Homo sapiens: one gene and its partners. The protein of the gene in region 4 interacts with the protein of the main gene of each other region in a biochemical or structural test. Each region holds a gene or a part of one and is shown on either strand. Other genes may lie near its edges. The genes, in order: RNF20, RAD18, UBA1 and UBE2A.

Region 1 (7,807 bases), on a different chromosome or scaffold from region 4:
CCTGTGTTAGTTTGCTAAGGATAATGGCCTTCAGCTGCATCCATGTCCCTGCAAATGACATGATGTCATTCTTTTTTTATAGCTGCATGGTGTCTCTCGGCTTTTTTTTTTTTTTTTCTTGAAATGGAGTTTCACTCTTTTTGCCCAGGCTGGAGTGCAATGGTGTGATCTCGGCTCACTGCAACCTTTGCCTCCTGGGTTCAAGTGATTCTCCTGCCTCAGCCTCCCGAGTAGCTGGAATTACAGGCGACCACCACCATGCCCAGCTAATTTTGTATTTTTAGTAGGGACAGGGTTTCACCATGTTGGCCAGGCTGGTCTTGAACTCCTGACATCAGGTGATCCGCCCGCCTTGGCCTCCCAAAGTGCTGGGATTACAGGCATAAGCCACCGCGCCCGGCCTTCTCTCAGCTTTTTAAGAGAGCATTAAACTAAATGGGGCTCCTCTGACAATTTGTGACTACCAATTAGCTCTCACGTTTCCATAGACTGTTAGGACACCTTGTCCTCACTCTTTAAAAAAGGCAGACCTGGCTCTAGCTCCCCTGAGTAAGCCACCTCCCTGGTCCCCAGAAATTACAAAGTAAGAGGGCTGAGTATGATGTAGTATAGTGGGCCAGGTGATCTGGGGAGAAGGAGGCAGGGGTATGGAAATGAAGGAGAAAGGTGTGGCGAGGGTGAATGGTAGGAGAAGGGAAAGGTGAGGACAAGAGGAGGGGGCTCGTTTTTGTAGGACACTCCCAGGTGGACCTGGACATCATTACCTAGAGCAGTGTTCCTTAAATGTGCCCAGATAGGAAGCATAATTACAAAAGTAAGAACTTGCATTTTCAGAGAGCTTTCCCCCGGAAATTCTGATTCAGCAAGTCTAGAGCAAGGGCTATGGTATCTAAATGTTTCTGTTTAACGAGTGATACCATGCTAAGTAAAATACAACTTGTTTAAAATAAGGGAGTTCCTGAATTATGTCTGGCATACAATCCAATCCAGATTTCATGGAATATTGGAATGCCTGGAGATATAACAATCTTAGAACAAAACATTTGTAAAGCAGTGTAGAAAAAAACAATAAACAAAAATCCAAAATATCTTAATTTTGTCCATTTTGAGAGCATTAAGCCTACCCTCAGTAGTTGTCCAAGTTTCTAAGAGTTAGGGTGAAGACAGGACATGACTGATGCGCAGTACTGTGCAACCAAAGCTTTAGAAAGGGAACTGGGTAAAGAGGCGTGTCGCCTTATGCCACCTTGTGGCAGAATTGGGTAGTTAATGAAGACCGGCTGGAGGTCGAATGACTTGGGTCCTTCAACAAATACTCATTAAGTCATCATTTGAAAAAAAAAATCACTTAAAATCTGAGTCTGTTTTCTCCTTTTAAAAAAGATTACTATTTGCTTAAATTATGTTTTTGATACAAGCAATGAGACTTTAAAAGTGAAATAAAATATTAAGTATTCTTTTTATCATTGCTAATGCTGTTTTCCCATTTATAAGTGAGGGAAAAACTTATTTTTCCAGGGATATTCCTTTTTCTCTTGATTAAGATGGTGAACAGAAGGTGGCTGGTCAGAAATGAATGGGGAATGCATTCAATGAGAGAGATCTCTGCCATCCTCCTCTTCATCTATTCTATTTTCCCAATTCGCTAGAGTGAGACAGGCTACTTTGAAGATGTCAGATGGCTGACTGAGGTGCTCAGAAAAGACAGATCTCACCAGTAGCTGCAGAATATGGTTACCTACTATGATGGTTAATTTTATGTGTCAATTTCGCTGGGCCACTGTGCCCAAATAGTTGGTGAAACATTATTCTGGATGATTCTGTGAAGGTGTTTTTGTTTGTTTGTTTGTTTGTTTGTTTTTTTGGATGAGATTAATATTTAAATTGGTAGACTAAAGCAGATTACCCTCCAAAATGTAGGTAGGCCTCATCCAATCAGTTGAGAGCCTTAATAGAACAAAGACTAACCTCCCCTGAGCAAGAATGAATTCTGCCAGCAGACTGCCTTTAGACTTAAACTGCAAATCTTTCCTGGGGCTCCAGGTTGCAAACCTGCCTTGTAGATTTTGGTTTATCCAGCCACCACAATCCTGTGAACCAATTCCTTATAATGTCCCTCTCTCTCTTTCTCAAATCTCTTTCTACACACACACACACACACACACACACACACACACACACACACACAGAGTTGATTTTATTTTCTGGAGAGCTGTGACACCTGTGAAGGTGTTAGATAACTGGAACTTTTGAGAAAGACATATATCCCAGTTGCTAGAGAATATGGTTACCTACATGGTGAGAATTGAAAGGTACTAGAAAAGTCTGCTCTCTTTGTAGAATCTTCTCTAACACTCAAGTGTGGGTTGAAGTTAGGGGTGACCTAACTCAGTTGATTGGCTCCATTTCCCTGAGATTCTCTTGGTTCTGCTCACCCCTATGTGGTCGCTCCATTCTCAAGAATGATCTCAGGAAGCCTCCAACAGTTTCAGCCTCACACAGAAAATCTGGAAGATAAAAATCTGCTTCAATTCTAGTATTCAAAGAAATTCACCCTGATTAAAGTGTCAATTGCTGACTAGGACTTTGGCTTGGGAAATGGAACTTAGTATTTAAGACAATCCTTGGAGATTGGGGTGAAATCAGTTTTCCCTAAGACTTAATGGAATCAAAGTGCTATATGGATACATGAAAAAAATCCTGGTTCTGCTAAGGTGAGGGAAGGGGAATAGCTGTTGGGTAGATCACCAATAATGTCCACCAGACACTTACGTAGTACCAGCAATTGATTTATCACAATGTAACACACAAGTGATGATACTCAAATTAAACTATACTAGTGCTAAGGAACCAGTAAAGATTAGTGGGGATTATGGTAAACAAGAATAACATGATCTATTAATAAAAGAGAGCCACGCCAAGCGTGGTGGCTCATTGCCAGTAGCTGTGGCTCAGGCCTGTAATCTCAGCACTTTGGGAGGCTGAGGTGGATGGATCGTCCGAGGTCAGGAGTTTGAGACCGGCCTAGCCAACATGGCGAAACCCCATCTCTACTAAAAATACAAAAATTAGCCAGGTGTGGTGGCGTGTGCCTGTGATCCCACCCACTTGGGAGGCTGAGGCATGGGAATTGCTTGAACCTGTGAGGTGGAGTTTGCAGTGAGCCGAGATTGTGCCACTGCACTCCAGCCTGGGTGACAGAGTAAGACTCTGTCTCGAAAAAAAGAAAAAAAAAAAAAAAGAAGAAGCCACTACTTTGCTCTAAGCAATGTGACCATGCAAAAATATAACCCTTCTGTTGCAAGATCATCAACATTTTTTAGAGAAACTGATAATTTGGATTTTTATGTAAAATAGCCATATTTTAAATGTTGGCAACTAAGTTCATTTTTGTTCTTGTTTTTAACCACGCAGGACAGCCAATACTGTCTAAAATAAACAAAGCATAACTGTTGGCTAAATGCAGTCTGTGAACCTCTAGTTTTCTGGGCTAGAAAAACCATTACTTGCCATTCAGTAGTTCTATGAATGAAAGGCTTGCTAAGAGTAGAGGAACCAAAGAAGATGAGAGAATGAGTGTCATTGTCTCATACAATGCTTTTCGGCAGGTGTGTCCCCACTCACATGTTCTCAGGCTCCCACTTCACGGAATGAAATGTGAAGTCCACTTGGGGCCAGTTAATTCTTTCCAAGATAGTCAAGGTGTTCCACTGCCAGGCACCAGGAACACTTGTTTCCCTGGTGTTGACCATCTTACTTCATTTACAGGTAAGCCCTAGCAGGTACAGGGACAAAAGTCTTCACACTAACAGAAATCCAGTGTAGATTAGCTTCTTTTTTTCCCAAGATGCCTAAATTCTATTTTTTAAAAAAGATATAGCGATCATTCTTCCATTTCTAGACCCTTAGCTGACGTCATTAGGTAGTTTATCATAGTTCTGCGAGACATACAGCTTTTCATTAATAGGTTAGATTAATTACCGTCCTATCATTAAAACGCATTTAGTTTAACTGAATGGAAAATAGCAGTTTGTCATAAACTTAAAAAAAAAAATCAATGCTTAATTAGCTTAAAATAGACTAGTACTGAGATCAGAGACTGATTGGCGTTTATCTTTTCCCTGGACAATTTCTTGTTCCCAAAAAAGCACAAGGGCAGTAGTTGTCACTCCTGCTTACGCATTAGAATCTAGTGGATGGAAATGCGGGGTTTGGGGGGAGGAGATGAGGGGAACGCTTTTTTAAAAAAGCTTTTGTCCAGGCCAAGTGATTCTAATGTGTAGACAGGGCAGAATACCGCTCCCTGTGCGGGGGAAAAAATCCCCAACATCTGAAATTCCTCAAATCCCTCAGATTCTCTCCAGAACTCTTCATTTCAGCACGTAGGGGTACCAACGAACAATTTTCTGAGGTGTCTGAGGCTAGTCATGTCCCCGGAGATTGACGGGACCGTCAGCCAATCGGCCGTCTGAACGAGTGATGGCAACCCCAATGACAAGCAACAGAATGAGGAACTTTATCCCCGCAGAAAGACCAGATCGCAGTAGCAAAGGTCAACAAGTCAACAAAAGCCAAGGGCTCTCCGTCAGGCATCAGCGAGGCCCGAGTACTCTTAGAGGTCGTAGCCAGGAGAGGGTCCCGCGCTTGCCCAGCGTTGCTAGGGAGGCGGCGCTTGCTCAAGCTTCTCGTGCCCTCTCCGTACGTCACTTCCGCCCGGCGGGGTCTCATAGTCCTATGGGCTGGGTTGAAGCCACTTCCTTTTTTCTTTCCCTTTTTCCTCTCCGTGGCCCCGCCTCCCGGAAGTTCTGCCTTGTCTCCGCCGCGGGTCAGGGGTGAGAGCTGGAATCTCTGCACGGGCCTTGGTGAGTAACTGCTGCGAGTTCTGTTCCCGCGCGGCGCCAGTTCAAAGAACTTAGGTTAGATCACGCTTAGGGCCCAACAGGACTGTGCCAGGCCTCAGGAGTCTCCACCCTCTCCAGTTTTGGGGCCGTCAGTCTCCTGGGCCTGCAATTATCCACGCTGAGGCTGAGGTCTTTGGCTTTTAGCGAGTTGGATTGCAGCCTTGTTCTGCTTCTGTGTCTTCTCTCTCCAGGCGAGGTCCTACTGAGGTTGTTGCCAGCGATAGTCCTCTCCTGGAGCTTGAATTGGAAGCAGAGTAGTCTTGTTAGTCTCGGTGATGGCTGCGTTGTTTCCTGAAGTAGCCAAAGTGCTTTAGCATCCATTCCGCCTCCTTTGAGCACCCTGGGAGGTAGGCAGGGCAGACGAAAAATATATTCGTTAATATTGTGCAGTTGAGGAAACTGAAGCTCTTGGCGAATTCACTGTTTCAAAGCAACACGGCCTCTAACAGGCAGAACTGAAATTCGCACCCAGGTCTAACTAACGTAGGGTTGCATAAAACAGTGGAGAGAGCGTTTGGAAATAGGGAAAACACTGCAAACGTTAAAGAAGAGCTGGGGTTTCTGAGTGCTTACTTTGTGTTCGGCTTTGTGCCAAATTCTTTCTATAATTATATCATCCATTTTATTTTATAATAAGCATAGGAAGTATATACTGTGGTTATTTATTCCTGGGTTAGGAAACTGAGGCTTAGAGATGATAACTGACTTGTCTAGTACTAATGACTTTAGTAGGCATTTCACAGATCTCTTTCAGCTCTGTGATTCTTTCAACACTGTAGTATTAACTTCTGGCATAATCAAACTGCCCTTTTCTGATTTTGGCATTACAGGAAGAGAGATTCCAGAACTTTATTTTTGGTCTCTTCACCCTTTGCCCATTGTCTCATTTCTTATCACCATTCTTATCACCATCCTATTTAGAAATTTATAGTCATGTAAATTTAGCCTTGACTTTCTTTTTTTTTTTTTTTTGAGACGGAGTCCCGCTCTGTTGCCCAGGCTGGAGTGCTGTGGTGCGATCTCGGCTCACTGCAAGCTCCGCCTCCCGGGTTCAAGTGATTCTCCTGCCTTAGCCTCCCGAGTAGCTGGGACTACCGGCGCCCGCCACCACGCCTGGCTAATTTTTTGTATTTTTAGTAGAGACGGGGTTTCACCGTGTTAGGCAGGATGGTCTCGATCTTCTGACCTCTTGATCCGCCCGCCTCGGCCTCCCAAAGTGCTGGGATTACAGACATGAGCCACCGCGCCCGGCCCGCCTTGACTTTTACTCTACAATTTAATTTTTTTTTTTTTTCCTCAAAGAGAAATATGGAGATGGTTGTGGAATTAATGGATCCAGGTTAAAGGGTTGGCCAGAAAAGTTGCTAGTTTTTACTCTATTGTTTTACTCTATTGTTGCTTTGCTTACATATATTATGTCAGTTTCTGCCTTTTTTTCTATCAGGAAAACGACTGTCTTCTTCTGCCAAAATGTCAGGAATTGGAAATAAAAGAGCAGCTGGAGAACCTGGCACCTCCATGCCTCCTGAGAAGAAGGCAGCTGTTGAAGATTCAGGGACCACAGTGGAAACAATTAAGCTAGGAGGTGTCTCTTCAACGGTATGAGGAAACAGTGCCATGAAAGTGTGCTTGTCTTCTGTCAGTTGCAACTTGAAACTAAAAATTCATGGAAGCTTTCTGGAGTATGGGGAAGCTATTTGAAAAGAAGAGGGAAATAAAACAGGCTGAAAGTAGGTAAAATGATGTGGTAGTCAGTTCTAGAGGAGAGGTAGATTGATAGTTGTTCTTTGTTTTCAAGGTGTACTTATATTCTTTCGAGAATCTGGGAAGGTGGTGCCTGATACAACATTAACTATAGGTATTTAGCAGTGGGAAGATACACATTTATTTTTCATTCACTGAAAAAGTCAGTACCAGATTCTAAGAGACAGTTTAGCAATCATTGAGAGTATGGTGAAGAGTGAGAGTCTGAGACCAGATTGCCTGGAGTTGACTCTGAGCTGTACCACTTCCTAGCTGGCTGACCTTGTGTTATCCTTCCTTTGCCTGTTTTCTTGTCTGTAAAATGTAATTAGAGTACCTGCTACATTAGATTTTTATGCATATAAAATAAGAGTCCCTGTTAAGGGCTAACACTTTGCATTTAATATAGTAAATAGTCAATAAATGGGAGGCATTCATAGCTAATATTGGGCTAGATAATATAATGGTGCATAACATAGATATTATCCTTGCTCTTATGGAGCTGACAAAATGAGTATTATATACCAAAATCTCATAGTAATGTTATATATCTGTTAGACATCAGAAGTTTACAGGTTTTGATCTACGTCAAGATTTTGCTTTTTTGAAAATCAGACATGGGGATGTGATATTAAAATGTTTTACATTTTGTAAAATGCTTTACATTTGTATGGCTTGCAAAACCACATCTATTGCTTATTTGATTTTGAGGCTGAGGTTTATTTTAGAGAGGCTGATTTTTTTTTTTGAGTCAGAATAATAGGAACATTCATAGTGAGTTGTTGATGAAGTGTCATTTCTGAGGCTGCCTGAGGTTCTGGTACTTAATATTGCTGGCAGGAAGTGATTTTTGTTTTAGCACTGCCTTGCATCATGCATTCCAAAGGCATTTATTCACTCAATATATAAATATTTGTTGAGTATTTGTTATTTGCCAGACACTATCCTTTACACTGAAGACAGCCCCTAGACTTTAGTTTGTAGGGTAGCACTGACAAGGGAATAGACTGTTTAGAGTGGGGTATGTGCTGTTGACAGGGATAAGCACATACTTATGGGAAGCACATAGCACACACCCCAGTGTGGACTTTATCCAGAGGCAATGAGGAGTTAGTGGATAGTCTTAAGTAGGAGACTAACATGCTCTGACTTGTGTTTGGAGA
Region 2 (7,204 bases), on a different chromosome or scaffold from region 4:
TGTGCTAATAGAATGCAGGCCTGGAGCTTCTGGAGCCATGTTTGCCTCTCATGGGGGGAGCCTGCATGAGCGTTAAGTCGACAGTGAGGGAAGAAGATATAAGGCATTAAGAAAGAGTGATTATGGCCAGGCGCGGTGGCTCACGCCTGTAATCCCAGCACTTTGGAAGGCTGAGGCTGGGAGTTCACGAGGTCAGGAGTTCAAGACCAGCCTAACCAATATGGTGAAACCCCGTCTCTACTAAAAATACACAAGAATTAGTTGGGCATGGTGGCACACGCCTGTTGTCCCAGTAGGGAGGCTGAAGCAGGATAATCGCTTGAACCCAGGAGACAGAGGTTGCAGTGAGCTGAGATTACACCACTGCACTCCAGCATGGGCGACACAGTTAGACTCCGTCTCAAAAAAAAAAAAAAAAAAAGAAGAAAGAGTAATTGAGAGGGAAGAAGAGAGACCACCTGGATCAAGCCATACCTGAATACCTACCTCAGGTCTTTTCAGTTACATGAGCTAACACACTGCCTTTCTTGCTTAGGCCATTTTGAGTTAGCTTTCTAATTCAGCACTTTGAACCAAAAAGTCCTAATACAGTTCCCTCCCTTAAAAGTTCTTCCTGTCTGATCTCAAAGCTCTTCCCATCTGCAGACCTTGACTTGGACTGGGCATTCCTCTGTCTAGTGTACTTGTCACCTCTGCTTGGGCATATAGTAGGTGCTCAGCAAACACTTGTTTGAAGGATCAATAGGAGGGGTTGGGACTCCTCCTAAGAAGAGGCTTTGGTGACAGACAGGTAGCTGGCCTCAGTGAGAAGCTCCCAGAGGTGATGGTGGTCTGACAGGCAGGTGGACGGGGTAATGGGCACAGTCTGTAAGTGTAAACAAGACCTAGCTGTCCCAGGGCTGGGAGGGAGAGAATAAGGCAGGGTCCATGTCTGGGAGGAGTCAAGATAGGGGCCTGGTCACAAGGACACAGCAGGGCCTGCTTCCTAGAACTGGGGTCCACAGTAAGTGTGAGGTCCACAGCACTTTTACCTCACCCGGACTGTGCCACCAAGGTTCAGTCCCTGTCACCTTCTTCTACTGTACACTTTCCACTTTGATCCCTTCTTCACCCAGCAGCTAGAATGACCTTTGGAAAATGTAAATTACACCCCTGCCTAAAGCCTCTAAGGACTTCCCCCCTGTGCTTATAGCAACATAATATTAATGACAGCTGACACTCACACAGGGCTTAGTAGTTGCCAGGCACCCTTCTAGGCATTAAACCTAGAATAACTCCTTTAATTATCCCTACAAGGCAAATACTAATATTATCCCCATTTTGCAGATGAGAAAATTGAGGCACAGAGAGGTCAACAACTTACCCAAGTTAACATGGATTAAAATCTGAACTTTTTACTAAGGCATGGAACTCTCCACTTCTGGGGTCTTTGGGTCTTTGCATGGCTGCCTCTCTCTATCAGTTGGGTCTCTGCCCATATATCACTTCCTCAGAGGGAGCCTCCCAGATCATACAATTTACAGTGTCCCCTCCTCTGTCCATTTTATCACCCTTTTTTATTGTTTTTACATCAGTTACTGTTTTATGCAATTATCTTACTCATTTTTTTACAAACTCTCTTTTTTTTTATCCTGGCTCCATGCTCACCCCCAGGCTGCCAGCTCCTGGAGAACAGAGGCCATATCTGTCTTACTCACCTCTGTATTCTAGCACCTGGTACAAGTGGAGAGTGGCTCAATAAACATTTGTTAAAATGAATGGAGGAAGGGAGAGATGGAGGCAGGGAGGAAGGAAGAAAAAAAATAAGGAAGGAAGGAAGGAAAGAAGGAACGAAGGAAGGGAGGAAGAAAGGAAGGAAGGAAAGGGAGGGAGGGAGCTCCTTTAATATCCCCTCTCCCATAACTAGAATGAGGAAGATGGGGCCTAGAGGAAGAGAGAGTGCTGGGCAGAGAGGAACAGGATGAAGAGAACCTGGAAAGGAGCTCAGGGGCCACAGGACATCCCCAGGTTAATCCAGGGCAGGCCCCACACTCAGTTGGGAGAATGCTTCTCTAATTAGGGTTGTCAGATTTGGCAAATAAAAATACAGGATGCCCAGTTAAATATTTGAATTTCTGGTTAAACAACAAATAATTGGTTAATAGGTTGTGTGCAATATTTGGGGCAGGTTTACACTAAAATGTTGTGTGCGGTTCATCTGAAATTCAGATTTACTGGGCAACTTGTATTTTATCTGGCCATCCTATTCTGGCTTCTCGCTGTGTGCTATGTGCCACAGAAGATTCCACTAAACACTAGCCTGCTTTTATTTTACATGGAACATTTTGTTTTTAGTCCTGAATAAGGAAGTACAATCTCTTTATTGATCTAACAGAAGGAGAAAGTCCATACAAACAGCAGCTTGTTAAGAGGAGAATGGCTCCCAGGGTTAGATAAACACCCAAGACAAACGCCTTTTCCTGAGCTCAAAGTGCGCTTGTTCTTGAACTTTCCTTCCTGGGCCTAGAGGTGGGCTTGATGGGATCTATCACCCTGGTGCTGCTGAAGATGGCAGGAAGAGAAATGCTCAGCCTGGGAGGAAAAGATTTATGGGAATGTGGGCTTAGTCGGTGATTCATCCATTCATTCAGCCTCACCCACCAGCTATTGGCAGACACTCAGAGATGAATGGCACCGCATCCTGTCCTGGAGGCTCTCCATAGATAGGGAAATGTATTTTGGCCCCAGGACTAACAAGTACTGCCTCCTTCCAAATCTGTCTCCATGGTTGAATGCAAAAAGTACATTCCTGTCCCTGTCTTTTCTCTCTCTCCCTTTCTCCTTACCCATTCTTTCTCTTTTTTCTCATCTCCTCTCTCTTCCTCTCTCACCTTCCCAGCCATTTGTCACCTTAAACCTAATTACCTTGTCCAACTAGTAGTGTGAAAAAAACAATTACTGGTTCACTCAGGCCACGGACCTGGTCTTAAATGCTTTTCCTTTGTCTCTCCAAGACCCCACTTCCTCCACATCCAGAACTATCCGACATTTTCCAGCTCAGCCTGGCATTCATTTGCGTTCATTTGCATGCCGTTCTATGATTGGCTGATACAAAGTGGGGGGCGGGGGTGGACACCGTAAACCTCCATTCCTCATGCATTTAATATAACATGTATGAAAAAAAGTATCTATATTTATATCTCGTTTAAGAAAAAAATTGTTCAATGATACTTGTTAAAGCACAATAAGGAAGACTTAATCAGGACAATTCAAGTAGGTATAGAGACCACTGGAACTGTGTCTTGCAATTGGTGAAAACTGGGCTCAACTCTGAATACAACATGGGCAAATGGAAATTTATAGCCAGGAAGCAGGGTGGGGAGCAGTGCATGAAAAATTACTAAGAGGAAACATCAGAGGTAACAGTAGATTCTTGCTGAAGAGGCCAGGGTGATCAGACATCAACTGGGGGATGGTGGAGGATGAGGAACACATCAGATATCAAGAGTGATCACATATCAAAGGTGGGGATTCTTGGTAACTTGATTTAGCAGGGTTTTTTGCTAAAACTGGATTTTTACAGGAAGTACACAGATTGGCCTAGGAGAAGGTTCAGGAGCCTGACTAAAGTTTGCTCAAGCAAAGAATCTTCGTCAATCTGCATAGGAAATATCTAGAAGGCTATATGCCAAAGTTAATGGTGCTTCTCTCCGAAGAAAAAGAAAAACCGTGCATTAAAATTTTAATATGAATAAAAGCAACAGCTCCCATTTAAAGCCCAGAGGTCCTGTTTGGAATCTGACTCGAAACTCTATCCACTTTTTCGGGCGTAGGCTTCTCTTGTGTAAACTGACAATGATAACATCTACCTCCCAGTGTTGTGATACGGGAGACATAAAGTAATGGATATAAAAACTTCTGTTCAGAGCAAGGACGGATAGTCACTGCGATTAGGGTGGGCGACCCGGAGGGGGGTCATGAGCCTGGACCTTGACAGATCTGGTGAGGTCTGGATTTGGTTTGATTCCTGGCTATCTTTTCTTAATATTCAACTGGCTCTACGCTTTTTAACCATTCACTTTCTTCAAGGTAAGTGCGGCAGAAGCCTGGCGCATGCGCAGTACAAGCCCTTAAGCGGCGCCCCGCCCACATACTACTACAACTTCCGGCAGGCTCCGCGCCCGCCTCTGGCGCGTCGCGGGCTGCTGACGTAATGCGGTAGCGCGGGGAATTTCGAGTGGTGTTGGAGCGCCGGAGGCTAGTGGGTGGCTGACCCCCAGCATCCTCGGGAGCGACCATGGACTCCCTGGCCGAGTCTCGGTGGCCTCCGGGCCTGGCAGTCATGAAGGTGAGTGCTTCGGGGAGTTTGGGAGCTCCCGGGTGTCTGCGGGGGGAGGTCCCTCCCTTTGAGGAGGATGTCCTCGCCTTAAGGAGAAAGGATGAGGCGCGAGCGTCGCACTGGGCCCGGGTATCCGGCTCTGCCCTGCCACTAGCCGACCGCGTGGCTCTGGGTCTCAGTTTACTCCTCTGATAAGTGACAAGGACAAGCCTGGTGAGCTGAGGTTGGCAGTCTTATGGCACCAGCTATTCTGCGATCCAATCCCAACAATAACATGGAGAAAAACAGTTATTCCAAACAATGACATCGACAGCTGTTCTTTACTGAAAGCTTACTTTGTGTCAAGCACTAAACAGTGACACCGGACATGATTTTGGGTGGACACTTTATCAGATAACATGTATGTAATCACGTAGCCAAGCAGGTAGTCTCCTTTACAGGCTCTTTCATTTCTTCTGATTATTCTCAATAAACGTAGTGCTCGTTTGTTCTGACATACTGCCCCAACTCCTCTCTAACACACCTTCACTCTTCTCTAACAATTGCTCATGTCTCTTAAACAGAGATCAGGACTCAGGCTCAGCGCTGATCTTGCATTGCGTCTGATTATTTCACTTAAATAACATTTATTTTTGTGGCCACTTTCTGTTTTGGCAAGGCATACCAGTTTCCATTTACAGTAGTGGTGGGCCCTGGATTTGCTCAAGAGCAGATGCACTTTGCTGTGCTGGATAAAGATCAGTTGCTTGGTGTTTCTTCTTGCTCTGTGATTATTTCCGTTTCTCACAGTGGCTAAGATAGCCTTCTTCTCCCTCAGTTTTGTAGACTTGGGGATTATAATACCTGTCCCACTGACTCATAAATTTGACTTTAGAATTAAGTGAAGGCTAAAGTAAGTAGAAGGCCTTGTTCTTCCTGCTGTCATCAGTGACGTCTAGAGTGCTTGGGGACTTGAGATATCTGCATGATGAGAAGCTGACATTGTGAAATGATCCAGGAAAGCTGTAGTTTTGGAGTTGTGGGCTTGGCACCAGGATGCAGTGGAGAAGAGCACAGATTTGAGTTCCAGTGGTCCTGGGTGAAATCTCCTGTCTGCCTCTTGACTGTATGACCTTCGGTTAGTAACTTAACCTCTCTGAGCCTGAATTTCTTCAACTATAAATTAGAGACAAAAATAACAGTTCATAGGATTGATTAAATAAATTAGTTGATGTATGTGGGCACAGATTCTGCTGTGTATTCACTGTGCTTACTGCAGTGCCTGACACCAAGTGGGTGCTCAAATATTATTTGCTGCTTGATTGAAAGTATCTGGAATGTAGTAAGCATTCAATGAATATATTTTATTATTATTAGCACTGTGTTAAGTGCTTCTTTCCCCTTTTAATTTGTTGTCATGAAGCTTGACTTGGATAAGGAAAGTAAAAGAGCTCTGTAACCTGTAAAGCTCCTGCTTTGTAGATTTAAGCACACTTTACATATTCCCACAATTTCAGTGTTCTTTAGAGGCGGGTTCCATGTCTTCTCTGACTTTGGTATCTCACCACAGCACTGAATGTAGAGTTTGGCACCACAGAGCGTTCAGTGAGTGTTCAACCAGAGAGTTGATTGAGCCCGTATTTTTTTGCTCACATTGGAATCATGGAATCTTAAGGTTAGAAAACCAGCCCCTTTCAGTATTTTAATCTCCTTTATAACACATCTGCCAATTTCTCACCTAATTTTTGCTTGAACTCTTCCAGGCACAAAGAACTATCAGATCCCAGAAGCAGATCTGACTGAAGTTACTTCTTTTATTGAATAGAAGTCTGACTCAGAATCCATGGTTGCTAACTTAGGATTCACAGAAAGACTTTGGAGTCTCAAGTTATTTGTAAAATTTTTGCATGTATGTTTTTCTGAGCAGAGAGTCCATAGTTGTCATCCATTTTTCAAAGGGATCTGTAACCCCAAAAACTTAAGAGTATTTTTGTAATTATTACGTTTTTCCACCCATTTTCTACTTCTCCCTTTCACTTTCTCTCTCTCTAAACTAAAGAAATTTTGGGGAGTCTGCTGACCACTCTCTATTCAGGCATCATTTTTTGTTTAGTTGGTTGAGGCGCATGTGATATGCATGTTACTGTCTTGGAGTGACATGACAAGAAATTTGAACCAGAAATGGCTCATCTGATGTAGTGTCAACTTCCACAATTGTGCTCTGCAGATCTTTCAGAATCATTCCTCCACCAGAAGAGGATGGCATAGATAAGAAAGTGTGATATAATAGACTGGTTCTGGCTTCTGGGCCTGCCTCTGCTCTTAATTGATCTTGAACATAACCCTTTAGATTTTTGTGTCTGTGACAGCTTACCATCCACAATAATGGAAGATTTTGGCATTTTATTATTTCCCTGGTTTTACTTTAACAAAAATTTACTGTTTTTGGCATATTGTAAATGTAATATGTGTACACGGTAGAAAAAAATTAAAATTCAGAATAAGATAAAGGAGAAAAATAAAACCATCCATAATTCTACCACCCAGAGAACCAGTGTTTAACATTTTACCTTATTTTCCTTTGGTTTTTGTGCATTTAAAATTTGGGATCACTGTGGAGTCAACTTCTTGGGTTTGATCCAGCCAACTTAGGAACTCTGTAGACTTTATTTTTAAAATTGGGATACTGATGCTGTGGACTTCATAAGATTGCTATGAAGATTAAACTACAGAGTTGTTATTATTATGTATTATTGGCATAGGTTTGTTTTCTGATTTTTATTTTCCTAGGGCATTAATTATTCTTTGAAAGCATGTTTTTTAATGGCTGCATAATATTTCATCATATGGACCATTAGCGACATTAGTCCTTTTTTGTTTACATTTTTAAAATTCAGGTAATAGGTT
Region 3 (7,030 bases), about 72 Mb from region 4:
CCTTGCCTTGTCATTGGTCAGTTTGTTTGGGACATGCCATTTCCTCACTCCATAAATTAGAGATGATCCAGGGCCAGAGAGCACTTTAATATCTGGACATTTCACCTCTGGATCCCCAGTGCAGGCAGCAAGAGTCTAAGAAGTTTCAGATGATTGTTCAAGTGGATTTTGACTGCAAAGGTTTGGAACAGCCCTGTCTCAAGGCAAGCAGGAGTCTGGGACAGAAACTCTGCAGAGGAGCTAAAGATCCCCCACCCCCAGCAGAAAAACAATCTACACCCTTCCTACCTCAACATTTGCTCAGGCCCCCACCATAACATACACACTGTGAACTGTTTGGCAAAGCTGAGCTGTGGCTTAGTTTCTAAACATACCTGAGTCTCCAAACTGAAGATTTTCAAGCGTAAGCATTCTCTATTCCCAAACCAGAGGGTTTGAGGGAGGAGTCTTGGAGGTGTGAGAGGAGGCAGGTTAGCAGGATGGAGAAGCTAGGGCATAGAGAAGGGGGGCTGGAGCATGTCAAGCTTTCTGGGAGGGGTTAACTGAGAAGTCCATGGGAACGTGAGAGGAGAATCAGGAAGTGGGTGTCTAAGAGCAAGGAGGCTCTGAGACAAATGGGAAAGGAGATGTTAGAAGTCCTGGGAGGGAAAGGACTAGGCTAGGGTATTAGGAAAAGACTCAAATTCGGATCTCTGGAAAAGGATCTTTTGGAGAAAGGCTGAAAAATTGCAGTGGAGGCCCCCAAGGCTGCAAGGAGGTAGGAGGACAGTTGCTGGGCCCCATGGAAGCTGCAAAGGGAATGGGTGGGGGATTCTAGAGTCTGAGGAGGCAGCAGGAAGATGTTGGGGTCTGGGGGGAGAGGCAGCCTCCATCAGGAGGATGTTGAGGCTCTGGAGGACTCTGGAGACAGATGCTGGTAGCAGAGAGAAATCTTTAACCAAAAATAATAGATAGGGACATGCAAGAGGAGAGGTGTATCTGACATTCCTACTACAGAGTCCCAGGAGGCTGTGAGGGTGGATGGTGAGGGGCTGGGAGAGGTTTCTAATGGAACACAAAGGCCCTGTGTCAATCTCTGACAGGACATGCTAGGTATCACAGCTGCTCTGAGGGTGTGGAAACGGGAAGCTGGGCCCAGATAGTGCAGGCCTTAAAAAGGTTAATAAGCAAACACTGGCTAGGTCCCCAAATGGGGTTGGGTTTCTCTGACCAATTATGTAGGACCCCATGGAGGCGCTGAAGGTAGATGCTGAGAAGAGGGTTTTCTACTGCAGTAGAAAACAAGAGGGCCATGGCCAGGCGCGGTGGCTCACGCCTGCAATCCCAGCACTTTGGGAGGCCGAGGCAGGTGGATCACCTGAGGTCAGGAGTTCGAGACCAGCCTGGGCAATATGGTGAAACCCCATCTCTACTAAAAATACAAAAAATTAGCCAGGCGTGGTGGTGCATGCCTGTAATCCCAGCTACTCGGGAGGCTGAGGCAGGAGAATCGCTTGAACCCAGGAGGTGGAGGTTGCAGTGAGCTGAGATGGCGCCACTGCACTCCAGCCTGGACGACATAGTGAAACAATTCTGTCTCGGAAAAAAGAAAAAGAAAAAGAAAACAAGAAGGCCTGTGGGGGGAAGGGACATCTGACAATGATCCTGGGGTCCAAGGAGGCTGAAAGCAGAAGCTGAAAACCCCTGACTGCAGACGTTAGGGACCTTGAAACGATCTGAGGGCAGATTCTGAGGCCTGATGTGAGGATAAGGGATCTGTGAAAAAAGCAGCTAGAACCCAGGTTGGTTTTTGAAGGCAGAGGCTGGGTCTAGGGTGGGGTTGGGGAGGCGAGTCTCTGATGGAAGGGGCTAGAAGCCAACGGGATCTGCAAGAGCAGATGCTCGCAGGGGCTCTTTGATGGAGGATTATGTATCCAAACAGTTCCTCCCTGGTATCTGGTGCACTGGAAGGCTCTGGGGGTTCAAGGTGCCTGATGGGGAAGATGCTGAGGCCTCTCAGTAGTCTCTGAATACTGGAAGTATAAAAAGCGAGAAATTCCATAAAAGTAGAGAAAGTGTCAAAGGACAGAGTCTAGGAATTGAAGAGTCTCTCAAGGCAGATGGTAAGAGGGGTCTCTGAGTAGAAATACTGGGCAGAGTCTCTGATGGAAGATGCTAGGGCCAGGGTGGGGTTAGGAGACCTGACGTGTGGCGAAGAGGGGCCCCCGACACAAAGGCCAGGCCCAAATGGCCTTTCACAGGGTCTAGTACCCCTGGAAGCTCTGAGCGCGGCTAGCATGTGTGTGGGATGGGGGTCTGAAGGAAAATGCTAAAGAGGACTCTCTTACAGAGATAAAGGGCCTATGGACCCCTTCGAGATCTAGCCCGTCCTGGAAGCCTTGAGGACAAATACTGAGAAGCTAGGAAGTGTCTCAAAGGAGATTCTGGGGCAGGTCTTTAACGGCATTCAATGGTGAGGAGCTCTGATCAGCAATGCTGATCCACGTAAATCTCTATTGGAGACTGGGGAAGAGTTCTGATCTGAGATACAAGGTTCGGGACGGAGTCAGGTCCCAGACTAGAGATGTTGGGCGTGAGTCTCTAAAAGCACATCCTGGGGGTCCGACTCCAAGGTCAGATTTTGCAACCAGAGGGAGCCGGAGTGGTCCTGGCCGGGGAAAGTCGGCCCCGCCCCAGGATCCGCTCCCCCTCCCTACTCCGCTGATTCCTGGCTCCCGAGTCACCGCGGCCCGCCCCGACAGCAGCGTGGCTCAGGGCCCTCCAGTGCCTCCCCGAAACCCCTGCCCAGGGCGAGGCGCAGTGAAAGGACGTTTTTTTACCAATGCCGGTTCCCCGGGTCGCGCCGCCGCCAACTCCTCAAGGAGCCGAAGCCAAGCCCGGCCGCCACCCTCCTCCTTCTCCTCCTCCCCGCCGCCTGGGCCGCCTAGAATCGCCGCTGCCGCCTTCTCCTCCCCCGGCCGTTGTGGTTGTGGTTGTCCCTGCCACCTCCTTACAGCCGAGCCGCCGACACAAGATGGCGGACGCTGAGCCTGGGGCCGGAACAAAACCTTGGGCCCCACCCCCAGAAACCCGGATGCAAGCGGGCCGCGCCTACTTATGAATCATGCATAAAGTTCCCTACTCGGTTGCGATTCATTCGGTTAGAAGTGGAACAGCACCACCTGGTGGACATTGTGGCAGTAACAACGAAAACAGGTAAAACAGAGGCCACGCCTCATGGAATGCGACTAATGAATGAATTGTTGCAGCCAGGCTGTCAAGGAAGCGAAGAAAAACCGTTAAGGCCATGCTTCCTGATTATAAGTTATGCATGAAGTTGAGTGGTTGGTAGACTAACAACCAGCAACCAGAAAGCAGATGTTAAAACATGGAAGCCACACACCCCCATTCATGAATAATGATGATCTTGCAGGGGCCCGGAAGCCAAGGAGACCCAGGCCACAACTTACTCATGAATAATGCATGAGGCCCAGTGGGTTGGAATAAAAGGGGCACGCCCGCCTATTGCTGCATCTAATACACTGTAAGCAGGGAAATGGGGCTGCTGCAGGGAAAACACACTCTCCCAGGTCCTGAATAATGAATTATGCTGCTGCAGTAGCTCAACCTGGAAACTCAGAGAGGTCAAGAAAGGTTCCACCCAATTTATGAATTATGCATAAGGCGAAGAAACACCCAAGACTGCCCTGCCCAGCAAATAGGGATTACGATGCTATAGCCAAGGCAAAGTGAGCACGCCTTCCTGTTCATGAATAATGAAAGATGTCACTGCAGTGCCACCAGAAAACCCAGGGGACGTGTACTCCCTGCCCCCACCTCCCCTCTCCACGCCTCCCTCCATTCTCCCCGCCTCAGGAACAAGGGCTGCCTTGGTCCAATCAAACCCAAACTCACTACATGTCTTTGGCAGGTGCCTCAGTTTCCACAACTGTAAAATGAGGATAGTAATGTGTTATTATGAAAATCAGATGACGCCTGTAATCCCAGCACTTTAGGAGGCCGAGGCGGGTGGATCACCTGAGGTCAGGAATTGGAGACCAGCCTGGCCAAGATGGTGAAACCCTGTCTCTACTAAAAATACAAAAATTAGCTGGGCATGTTGGCGGGCGCCTGTAATCCCAGCTACTGGGGAGGCTGAGGCAGGAGAATCGCTTGAACTCGGGAAGCAGAGGTTGCAGTCAGCCGAGATCGCGCCATTGCACTCCAGCTTGGGCGACAAGAGAGAAACTCCGTCTCAAACAAAAGAAAATCAGAGAATATAAATTATGGGATGAGCCTTAGAACATTGCTGGCACAAGGCACTGTTAAATTTTTAAAATATTATATATTAATATAAAAGTAATATGTTAAGATATGTAAATATATATTTACATTAATATAAAATTAGTTATGAATACTCAGCCACTAGAGAAACCCCCAACTTGGGCCACTGCTTCCCCATCCATAAAATAGGAATAACAGCAACTTACCTTGCGATGGAGTTTAAATGAAGAAATAAGTAGAAAGGGCTTAGACCAGTGCCTGGCACATGCTAAGTGTTATATTAGTAGTAGTAGTACTATCAAATGGCGGCGCAGGGGAATGGGGAGGGGAGACATTATGGCATCTGGTTAAGACTACAGATTGCGGAACTAGACCCCAATTTGAATCCCGGCCCAGCCACTCACTGATTGTGTGACCTTAGGCAAATTACTTAGCCTTCCTGTGTCCCAGTTTCCTTATCTATAAAGTGGGGGTAATAATGACCTACCTCCTAGGATTGTCGTGAAGATTAAATGCGCTAAGTAGCTAAACGAGTGTAAGCTAATCTTATCGTTATCCTCATACCCATTATTCAGGCTTACAAAACGATTTGCCAAAGATCACACAACTGGAAAGGATCGATGGGATTTGAATCCAGAGCCGGCTGATTATCTGGGATTACCAGGCCATAAGAAATGAACAATGTAGGAGGCCTCATCCCTTTGCTAGACGCCAGGTTTTAACTCTGGTACCTGCAAGGGAAAGCTAACCGCGGATCACGCAGACAAAGCTGCAAAAGCCACGCTCCTCATGAATTAAGCACGGAACCCCTAGAAAAGCCACTGAAAACTCAGGGTGCTACTTAACTTTTGCGAATCATCAATGAACTCGTTTGCGCGGCAGACTTCAGAACGCCCCTTCAGCACGTCCCTTCGGCACGCTGATCCGCCCCTCGTGAATAATTCACAAGCCGAGAACCTTCAGCGGACCAGGTGCGAAAGAGGCAAAAAAACTGCCGCCTACCACAGCCCCACCTTATTATGAATAATGAATAAAGGCCGGGTGGCGCCTCGTCAGCTCAGGAAGAGCTGGGCTCCGGTGTCCCTTCCCTAGCCTGAGCTGGGAGGCTCCTCTCCCTAGAAACATCTGGGCCCCCGACGTGTCCAGTCTCGCAGTCCTGAGCCTCCAGGCGCGGGGAGGACCTCATCACAAAACCAGAGGTCACAAAGGCCTGACACCTCCACAATGCCACGTCGGTCCCGATTGTTCTGTCACCAGGACCCCGTCCTGAAACAAGCCCTCCCCCAGTCCCGCCTTGACTTTAGTAACCTCAAGCTTTGCTTCTCCCCTTGAAGAATAACCCAAATCCTGCTCCACGGACAAGGGTGCCCATACACGGACCCTAAGAATCTCCCCAAAGCCCCCCAAACCCTGCCTCCGAGGGGTGCTCCCCGAAACAGACTCCCAAATCCCACCCCGAAGTCCCCAAACGGCACCCCTTAAGGGTCTCAAAAGCAGACGCCCCCTAAATATCACCCCGGGCCCGGAGGCTCCAAATACGCCCATGAGGGGTTTCCCCGAAGTTGGGATTAGGGAAGCACCCTCCTCCAAATGCTGTCCAGAGGCTTGGGGGCACGGTGCTCCAGCTCACCCCCTGTGCCGGGCGGAAGCCTCGCCTTCCTGCCAAAGATGAGCTGAAGCCACGGGGCAACGGAAGAGCAAACCACCTCTGTCGTACAAGAGAAGCCAGAGTTTGCGCGGAGCTCGGAAGCGCGGGGCCTTGGAGAGCCCCGGGTCTGGGATGTACCACAGATGCTTTGCTAGAGGGGCGTCAGTCCCTGCTCCCGCGTCGCTGGTGCCCGTTTCAGACCCAGATGACCCTACAGGTTGTGGTACGGCCCAAATGCGCGCGGCATGCTGGGGGTGGTAGTTCTGTCTGGCCAGTGCCTGGTGCACGTGGTGGGCACCAGCGTCCAGAATATGGGAAAATGTAAGCCTGAGCTGTGGAATTGCCGGAGCCGTGCTCTGTAGGGTGGGAAGAGGAAACGGAACGTGTGGGTGCCTCCACATGGAAAGGCACACCCATCCTACAGATGGGGAGACCGAGACTCAGGTGGCCAAAAAAGTTCATTTGACATGGGCCAGGTGCTGGAAATTCTTCCTTGGGCTCATGGAGCTGACATTCTAGCAAGATACACAGACCATAAACATAACAATAAGTAAAATTATAGTTTCACATACAAACCCGTATTATAATAGATATCTGTGACTATATACAGTAATATAAATTATGGATATACAATCATGTGCTGCATAACATTTTGGTCAACGGTCCTATAACACAGAAAAAATTTTACTGTTATCTTTTCTATGTTTACATGTTACCATAGTGGAGACGGGATTTCGCCACGTTAGCCAGACTGGACTAGAGCTCCTGAGCTCAGGCGATACCGCCCGCTCGGCCTCCCAAAGTGCTGGGACTATAGGCGCGAGCCGCCGCGCCTGGCAAAATTCTTTAGCCTTTTAATAAATGGAGTCTTGGCCGGGCGCGGCGGCTCACGCCTATAATCCCATCACTTTGGCAGGCTGAGGCAGGATGATTGCTTGAGCCCAGGAGTTCAAGACCAGCCTGGGCAACAAAGTGAGACCCCCCCACGCCCCAACATACACACACACACACCCCACCACCACCACCTGGTCTCCACAAAAAATCAAAGAATTAGCTGGGCATAGTGGGGTGCATCTGTGGTCCCACAGTGAGCCCTGTGGAGGCAGGAAAATAGACAAA
Region 4 (7,356 bases):
TTCATGTTGAAATCTTCATGAATGAAATTTCACAATTTTTTTGGTTTTTTTGAGACAAGTCTTGCATTTTTGCCCAGACTGATCTCAAACTCCTCACTTCAAGCGATCCTCCCACCTCCACCTCCCAAAATGCTGGGATTACAGGCATGAGCCACTGTGCCCAGCCCACTTTTCTTTAAATTGAGGAGACTTATCCTTTCTGGACCCCTGCTCTTGGGTAGGGGTGGTGCTTGGCTGTGAAGAGGGTATTTCTTCAAGATGTCAAGGTGAAAAAAGGGTAGAAAGAATGCTTGGCCAAACTGTGCTAAAGTTAGTATGTTCTAGCCTGATAATCATCATGCTGGAAAACAATCTTCTGTATTGCTGCTTGCTATGACAACCCTGCTTCTGCTGAGGAATGTGGGGGCACGGTGTTCCTGCAATGCAGTTTCATTCCTTAGTCAGAGAATGCTACTCCCATGCAGGTGCCAGGGGGCTTCCAACCATTTGGGTCATGCTCCTGAGTTTTTTTGTTTGTTTGTTTGTGTTTTGTTTTCTGAGACGGAGTTTCGCTCTTGTTGCCCAGGCTGGAGTGCAATGGTGCGATCTCAGCTCCCTGTAACCTCCGCCTCCCGGGTTCAAGCAATTCTCCTGCTTCAGCCTCTGGAATAGCTGGGATTATAGGCATGCACCACCATGCCCGGTTAATTTTGTATTTTTAGTAGAGACGGGGTTTCTCCATGTTGGTCAGGCTGGTCTCAAACTCCTGACCTCAGGTGATCCACTTGGCCTCCCCAAGTGCTGGGATTGCAGGCTTGAGCCACTGAGCCCAGCCCTTAGTTTTCTTGAAAGGAAGAAAGTCCAAGAAAGGAAGAGAAAGGGGGTTTCAAAAAACAGACAAGCTCACAACAAACTTACATACATCTATATCCTTCAATAAATTTCAGACATGTATATCCAGTAGCAGGAGCTTCTCAGTCCCTTTCATACTTTTTAGTACGGTACATGCCGCTTCTTAATAGGGTATTTTCTTTTTCTTTCTCTTTTTTTTTTGTCTGGTCGTGTCGCCCAGGCTGGAGTGTAGTGGCATGACCTCCGCTCACTGCAACCTCCGCCTCCTGGGTTCCAGCGATTCTTCTGTCTCAGCCTCCCGAGTAGCTCGAACTACAGGTCCTCACCACCACGCCCAGCTAATTTTTTTGTATTTTTAGTAGAGATGGGGTTACCTCATGTTGGCCAGGTTAGTCTTGAACTCCTGACCTCAGGTGATCTACCTGCCTCGGCCTCCCAAGTGCTGGGATTATAGGCGTGAGCCACCATGCCTGGCCTCAAAAGGATATTTTCTTTTTTTTCTTTTTTTTCTTTTTTTTTTTTGAGATGGAGTCTTGCTCTGTCGCCCAGGCTGGAGTGCAGTGGCGCGATCTCTGCTCACTGCAAGCTCCACCTCCCGGGCTCACGCCATTCTCCTGCCTCAGCCTCCAGAGTAGCTGGGACTACAGGCGCCCACCACCACGCCCGGAGAATTTTTTGTATTTTTAGTGGAGACGGGGTTTCACCATGTTAGCCAGGATGGTCTTGATCTCCTGACCTCGTGATCCACCTGCCTTGGCCTCCCAAAGTGCTGGGATTACAGGTGTGAGACACCGCGCCCGGCCAGGATATTTTCAATACATCTCTCTCATGCTCAAACACCTATAAAAGCTGCCTAAATTCCCCATTCTCGCATTTGAGGGCATTTAATCAACTTCTGTCACCCTCACTTTTCCTAGCTGAGGTCTCATCATTCCCCAGCCAAGAACCTGTCCATTAGCCAAGCTCATCTGCCCACGGGTTTAGCTCCATGCCCTTGTCTGTGCCATTGCCCCCATATAAACTGCTTAAGTTCTTCTCTCTCAAGCTCCGCTTTCATCTCTGTTGAAACAAAATTGAAATACACCCATTTCAGGAAGCTTGTCCTGATCCCACCAGAATGACGATTCCTCTGCTGTGCAATCTCTCAGCATCTGTGGTTTCACACACTTCTACAAGTTGAGGATCTCAAATCTGAAAATCTAAAATCCGAAATGCTCCAAAACCTGAAACTTTTATAATGCAAATAATTCCAAAATCTGAAAAAAAAAAAAAAAAAAAAAGGAAATCTGAAACCGTTCTGGTTCTGCTGTTGCTGTCGTAGGCAGACTTCTAAGATGCTACCCTCCCCTGAGATTCTTGGTCCTTGGTATATACACACACTTTCTCCCAGTTATTAAATGAAATACTAATCTAGGTTCTGCAGTGAAAAAATTTAGCAGACATAATAAAGGTCCCAACTTAGATGTTTTTAACATAGGGAAATTATCCATGGGGTGGGCCTGACATAATCTGATAAGCCTTTAAAGTAGACTGTGCTCTTCCTGAAAACAAGATTCAAAGAGTGAGAGGGATGTGGTGGGAGAGAAATTCTCTGTTGATGACTTTGAAGATGGAGTAGGCCACTTGGCAAGGAATGCAGGCGGCCTCTAGGAGCTGAGAGTAGTTCCCAGGTGGCAGCTAGTAAGGAAATAGGGACCAAAGTCCTACAACTGCAATGAACTGGGCTTGGCCAACAACTTGTAATTTGTTAAGCAGTGATGAAAACGAATATACTTGCTTTTGTAGATCTTGCTTTTGTTGATTTCATATGTGTGTATGTGTGTGTTAGTAGACTGCAAGTTCTTAGATGAGAGGAAAAAAAGTTTTTTTTTTTTAATTTTTGTACCCCCTTCCTACTACAGCCATAATGTGATGCTATTAGGGAGACTTGCCTTAACTGATATGTTGGAGTTAATGGGAGATAGAAATCCTTGACCATGAAAGTACCTGTTGTTAAGCAGCAGCTAGAATCACTACCATTGTCAAGTGCCTCCTGCTTCTCATGTTAGAAACAAATTCCTGCACATCTGATATCTTCTGGACATCTTCACGGGGATGTCTCACCAGTCCCATGAACTCAGTAAGTCCCACCCAAAATTTCCTTTTCCAAACTTGTCCCTCTCTCTCTATTCTGTAATTCTGTTAATGGCACCTTCAAAACCCCAGTTATCTCGGGGCTTAGAGTTTCAGCCACTGTTGACTCCTTCCTCTCTCTTGCCCCATATTCAGCCTGTTGCCAAGTCCTCCCCATTCATTCATATCCTCGCCTTTATTGTCACTGCCTGCTTCAGTATCTCGCACCTAGATACTGCAAGAGTCTCCTGCCTGCTCTCTTGAGACCAATCTCTGATAAGGACAGCTCTAATGATGTCACTTCCCTGCTCAATGGACTTCCAAGGAATCCATTAGCTTGGCATTCAAAACTCTTGATGACTTAACCCAAATCTACCTTTCTCCTATTTTCAATAATTTTTAAATGTGTATTATGCCTATCTTCTAAGTTATTTTGGGTTGACCTTTAAAAATTATCCTTTAAAACTGTTATTGCTTTTGCAGGTCCACGGACTGTGACTCTTCCTGCAACCTGCAGCTTTTCCACGTTCCTTTTACTTCAGACCCACTGTCCTTGCAACTCCCTGCAGTCGGATAGTCTCATATCTTGGACTCTTCTGAACATAAATAGCCGCTTGGCTTGTTGAACTACCAAGGGGAAATGTGGTTCCAGAGCCAAATTGTGAGTGCCCAAAACAAAACAGAACAAAACAAAACCCTACTCCGCCTGCCTTAAGCTCCCATTCCCTCCCACAGGACATACAACACTATTTCATTCTGCCCTGGGGTGATCATTGGCCTAAACGTTGAGCGCCCAATCCTGCATTCAATCCCACAGCCCCGCCCCGCCCCCCCGTCATAGTCAAGGCCGATTTATTCTTTTGATTTTCCGTGATTTTAACCAATCACTCCTCTCCCCACCCCTCCGACCCCAGTCTCCGGTGTCCGAAGGGGTTGTGCACCCTAGAGTTGCCGCTTTTTGAGAACCGGTTTTACCTCCGCCCACTCCTTCGTCCTCTAGTTTGGGACTTCCAAACTTCTCCCCTCTCCTCCCCGGGCATAGTGCGCGCTTTCATGAATGATCTGGTCACAAAACAAACAAAAACGAATAGAAAAAGAAAAAAAGAGAAAAAGAAAAAAAGCCGAAAACTTCCCAGGGTTTGCCTTAGAATTAGCAGGTGGGGATGGACCCCGTTCCACCACGAGCTCCTCCAGCGCCCGGGGCTCCGGCGTACCCTACGCCTCTGCGCTCGCGGCCCCGCCCCGGGCCTCCCGTGGGGCTTTAATGACATAAGCAACTTTCCTCGCGCACCCCCCGCCCCGTCTTGGTACGGCCTGTCCGGCGCTCGACGTTCCACCCCCCTCTCTCTGCTCTCAGGTTGGTTCAGCCCCCGTCTACACTGGGGTGGTGCTTAGCCGGCGCCAGACCGACCCTCGACTTCGGAGAGGCAGCGCGGTTCCTCTGGGTGCTTCCGCCTCCCCTTCTCCTGCTTCTCCAGCCTCTTCGGCCTCCTCGCCCGCCGCGGGAACCCGAGACCCCAGTGTATGCCCCACCCCTGACCCCGCTCGCGACATGTCCACCCCGGCTCGGCGGCGCCTCATGCGGGACTTCAAGAGGTAAACCGAGGGGACGGCCGAGGCCGGGGGTTGCGAGCTGGGGCACAGGGCGGGTCCCGAGGCGCGCCGGGCGGGGAGGGCTGGGGAGCGGCCGGGAGCGGGCGCCAGTGCCGGCCTAGGGGGACCCCTGTCTGTCTTCCCGAAGGTTGCAGGAGGATCCTCCAGCCGGAGTCAGCGGGGCTCCGTCCGAGAACAACATAATGGTGTGGAACGCGGTCATTTTCGGGTGAGTCTGCGTTCGTGGCGGTGGCGAGAAAACTGGGGACGCGAGCAGCTTCGGTCTGCGCTCCGGGGCGGGCCCCCCGCGGAGGCCGAGCGGGTAGGGGAAAATGTTTGGGTCTGGCTGGGCCTAGGCGCCTCCCCGGAGCCTGTGCCTCGATTAGCTCAGTTCCCGCTGCCAGGGGGAACCGCTTGGGGTTCTAGGGGGGCGGGGCGGGGAGTGGTGGCGGTTAGGCGCGGCGGCTTGCCCTGTGTCTCTGAGCCCGGGACATCCATTTGTAGTGGCTTCCGACCCCGGTAGCGGTGCTGGAGATGGCAGAGCTCGGGATAGCCATCTCAGATGAAGCAGGGAGAAGGGGGCCCCTTAAGTGGGAACTGACCATTTTTCTCTGTGTTGCAGGCCTGAAGGGACCCCGTTTGAGGATGGTAAGAGAGAGTTTCTTTACCCACTTTTCAGGAGCCTGGTCATCTGGGGAAAGGGTTCCCAGTCATCCTGGAAGTGTCTCCTGCTTAGGAACCTGCCTCTGCCTAGCCTCTGTCTGCTAAAGGCTTGAGTGGAATGCAGTGTGTGGCTGGTGGTTCTGGATATTGTATGCTTGACTAGAACTGCACCTTTCTTCTTGCTTTCTTAAAAAAAAAATCTGTGTAAGGCAGTCACTTTTTAAAAGGAGCAATCATAGCACTGGTATTAAGGATTTTTGAGGCTTGGGCTGTAATTCTGCTAAATTCAGCCCTCCATCACTGAATTAGTATAAACCCAACCAGTTGCTGATAGGCAGCAGAGACCCCAGAGACCATCTGGTTCAGAATTCTACCCCAAGGGCAGGAGTTGTGTTCAGCAGGTGCTTGGTAGATGTGTGTTGGATGTTGAGTGGATGCGAGAATCCCTTGCGTACAACTGTCTGGTTTCTACAATCTGACATTGAATGCCTGTCAGCCTCACTGCTCTAAGATGGTCTTAAATGCCTCATTTGAGTACAGTATTCTTTCTTATTTTTAAGTGAATTTGCAGTGTGTGCTTTCATCAAGACGTTATGATGAGTAATTTCAAAGCAGCTTCACAATTGAAGTTAGCCTTAATGTACCCTTTTGATCAGTGTCCTGCCTACCTGAAAGTACTACATGTACCAGTAGGTACATAATTTTTAATTGATTTAGGTTTAACTTTTAAAAACACGTGTAAATTGCTTTTTAAAAACTTTCTGATTTTAGATAATTATAGATTCATATGCAGTTGCAAGAAATAATAGAGACACCCTTTATACCCTTAACCCAGTCCTCTACCCAAACCCTCCCATTTGGTAACATCTTGAATGACTAGACCCTATCACAACCGGAAAAATGACACTGATAGTTCTACACTCAGTTGTGTGTGTGTGTGGTTGTTTTTTGAAAGTTTAATACATTTAAAGGATGATTAAAGTATTTGAACTCATGAAATTCTTTAATATTTGAGGTTTTAAAAAAAAGGAAAAGGATCTTTCTGTTATTTTTTTCCTCAATGATTTCCTTCGGTCACATAGCATTTATACACACACACACACACACACACACTTCAGTTTGAAGGTGGGAACAAAAACATTTCTGCAAACTACTTAATACATACTTATGTTGCTGAGCCGGATTGCTTTTTGATGCTACCAGTCCACAAAATGTTGTGAGGTAAGTCAATTTCAACTAAGTCTGTAATTCATCTCAAGTACTTAGATTTCCCCAGGAAACTGTGGACAGTCACCTGAATATTTTTAGCTTCCTCTTTACCTTTACCCCCTGGGTAAATATCATTACTCTTCAGGGCTGCAAAGAAAAGAAATGACAGCAGGAAACAGTGATTGTAAGGGCATACTACTTTGGCGCAGTTAATCATTTGAACTGATTTGTAGCAAAAAACTATAGCTAGACTTAATTTTCTTCTACCAGATTGGCACTAGTTTTTTTGTTTGTTTGTTTTTTGTTTTTGTTTTTTTGAGACGGAGTTGCGCCCTGTCACCCAGGCTGGAGTGCGATGGTGTGATCTCGGCTCACTGCAACCTCCGCCTCCCAGGTTCAAGCGATTCTCCTGCCTCAGCCTCCTGAGTAGCTGGGATTACAGGTGTGCGACACCGCGCCCGGCTAATTTTTTGTATCTTTAGTAGAGACGGGGTTTCACCATGTTGGCCAGGCTGGTCTCAAACTCCTGACCTTGGGATCCACCCGCCTTGGCCTCCCAAAGTGCTGGGACTACAGGCTTGAGCCACCGCACCCGGCGAGCACTAGTTCTTTATACCTGAGCTTTAAATGTACAGATTAACTGTGTTTGCTTTAGCTCTAGTAGGCCTTGTTTTCATTGGCTTCTTTTTTCCTCGTTTTACTCTGTTTTATGCTGGGCACAGCTTTATTAATAGTACATCACTTTGCTGGGGATTGGCTACCTAAATATTTCAAGGGTGCTTCTCTTAAGTGGTATGAATTGAAAAGGTACTTACAGAGTCCATTATCTACCAGGACTGTCACCTTTGACATTACTGGTTCTATTTTTGATGATGTGTATCTCCATCCTAGCATTACTGAAAGGAATTACTCAGGCTGATTTGTTCTGTTGAACAGTCTGCTACCGAT

Evidence for each region.
Region 1: the proteins of UBE2A (region 4) and RNF20 form a complex in vitro, tested with the Homo sapiens proteins (4 studies listed by BioGRID, with this or other methods).
Region 2: the proteins of UBE2A (region 4) and RAD18 form a complex in vitro, tested with the Homo sapiens proteins (12 studies listed by BioGRID, with this or other methods).
Region 3: of the proteins of UBE2A (region 4) and UBA1, one has a biochemical effect on the other in vitro, tested with the Homo sapiens proteins (6 studies listed by BioGRID, with this or other methods).

Annotation. Positions count from the first base shown.
Region 1 is NC_000009.12:101,529,053-101,536,859, forward strand, and holds the start of RNF20 (E3 ubiquitin-protein ligase BRE1A), read left to right. Parts: upstream 1-4,800; 5' UTR 4,801-4,862; exon of another isoform or gene 4,863-5,248; intron 5,249-6,345; 5' UTR 6,346-6,371; coding exon 6,372-6,500; intron 6,501-7,807. UniProt on the Homo sapiens protein: Component of the RNF20/40 E3 ubiquitin-protein ligase complex that mediates monoubiquitination of 'Lys-120' of histone H2B (H2BK120ub1).
Region 2 is NC_000003.12:8,960,458-8,967,661, reverse strand, and holds the start of RAD18 (E3 ubiquitin-protein ligase RAD18), read left to right. Parts: upstream 1-4,189; 5' UTR 4,190-4,276; coding exon 4,277-4,327; intron 4,328-7,204. UniProt on the Homo sapiens protein: E3 ubiquitin-protein ligase involved in postreplication repair of UV-damaged DNA. Postreplication repair functions in gap-filling of a daughter strand on replication of damaged DNA.
Region 3 is NC_000023.11:47,189,814-47,196,843, reverse strand, and holds the start of UBA1 (ubiquitin-like modifier-activating enzyme 1), read right to left. Parts: upstream 3,016-7,030; 5' UTR 2,820-3,015; exon of another isoform or gene 412-2,819; coding exon of another isoform or gene 375-411; exon of another isoform or gene 1-374. UniProt on the Homo sapiens protein: Catalyzes the first step in ubiquitin conjugation to mark cellular proteins for degradation through the ubiquitin-proteasome system.
Region 4 is NC_000023.11:119,570,217-119,577,572, forward strand, and holds the start of UBE2A (ubiquitin-conjugating enzyme E2 A), read left to right. Parts: upstream 1-4,346; 5' UTR 4,347-4,495; coding exon 4,496-4,539; intron 4,540-4,684; coding exon 4,685-4,765; intron 4,766-5,158; coding exon 5,159-5,184; intron 5,185-7,356. UniProt on the Homo sapiens protein: E2 ubiquitin-conjugating enzyme that accepts ubiquitin from the ubiquitin-activating enzyme E1 and transfers it to a E3 ubiquitin-protein ligase. In vitro catalyzes 'Lys-11', as well as 'Lys-48'-linked polyubiquitination.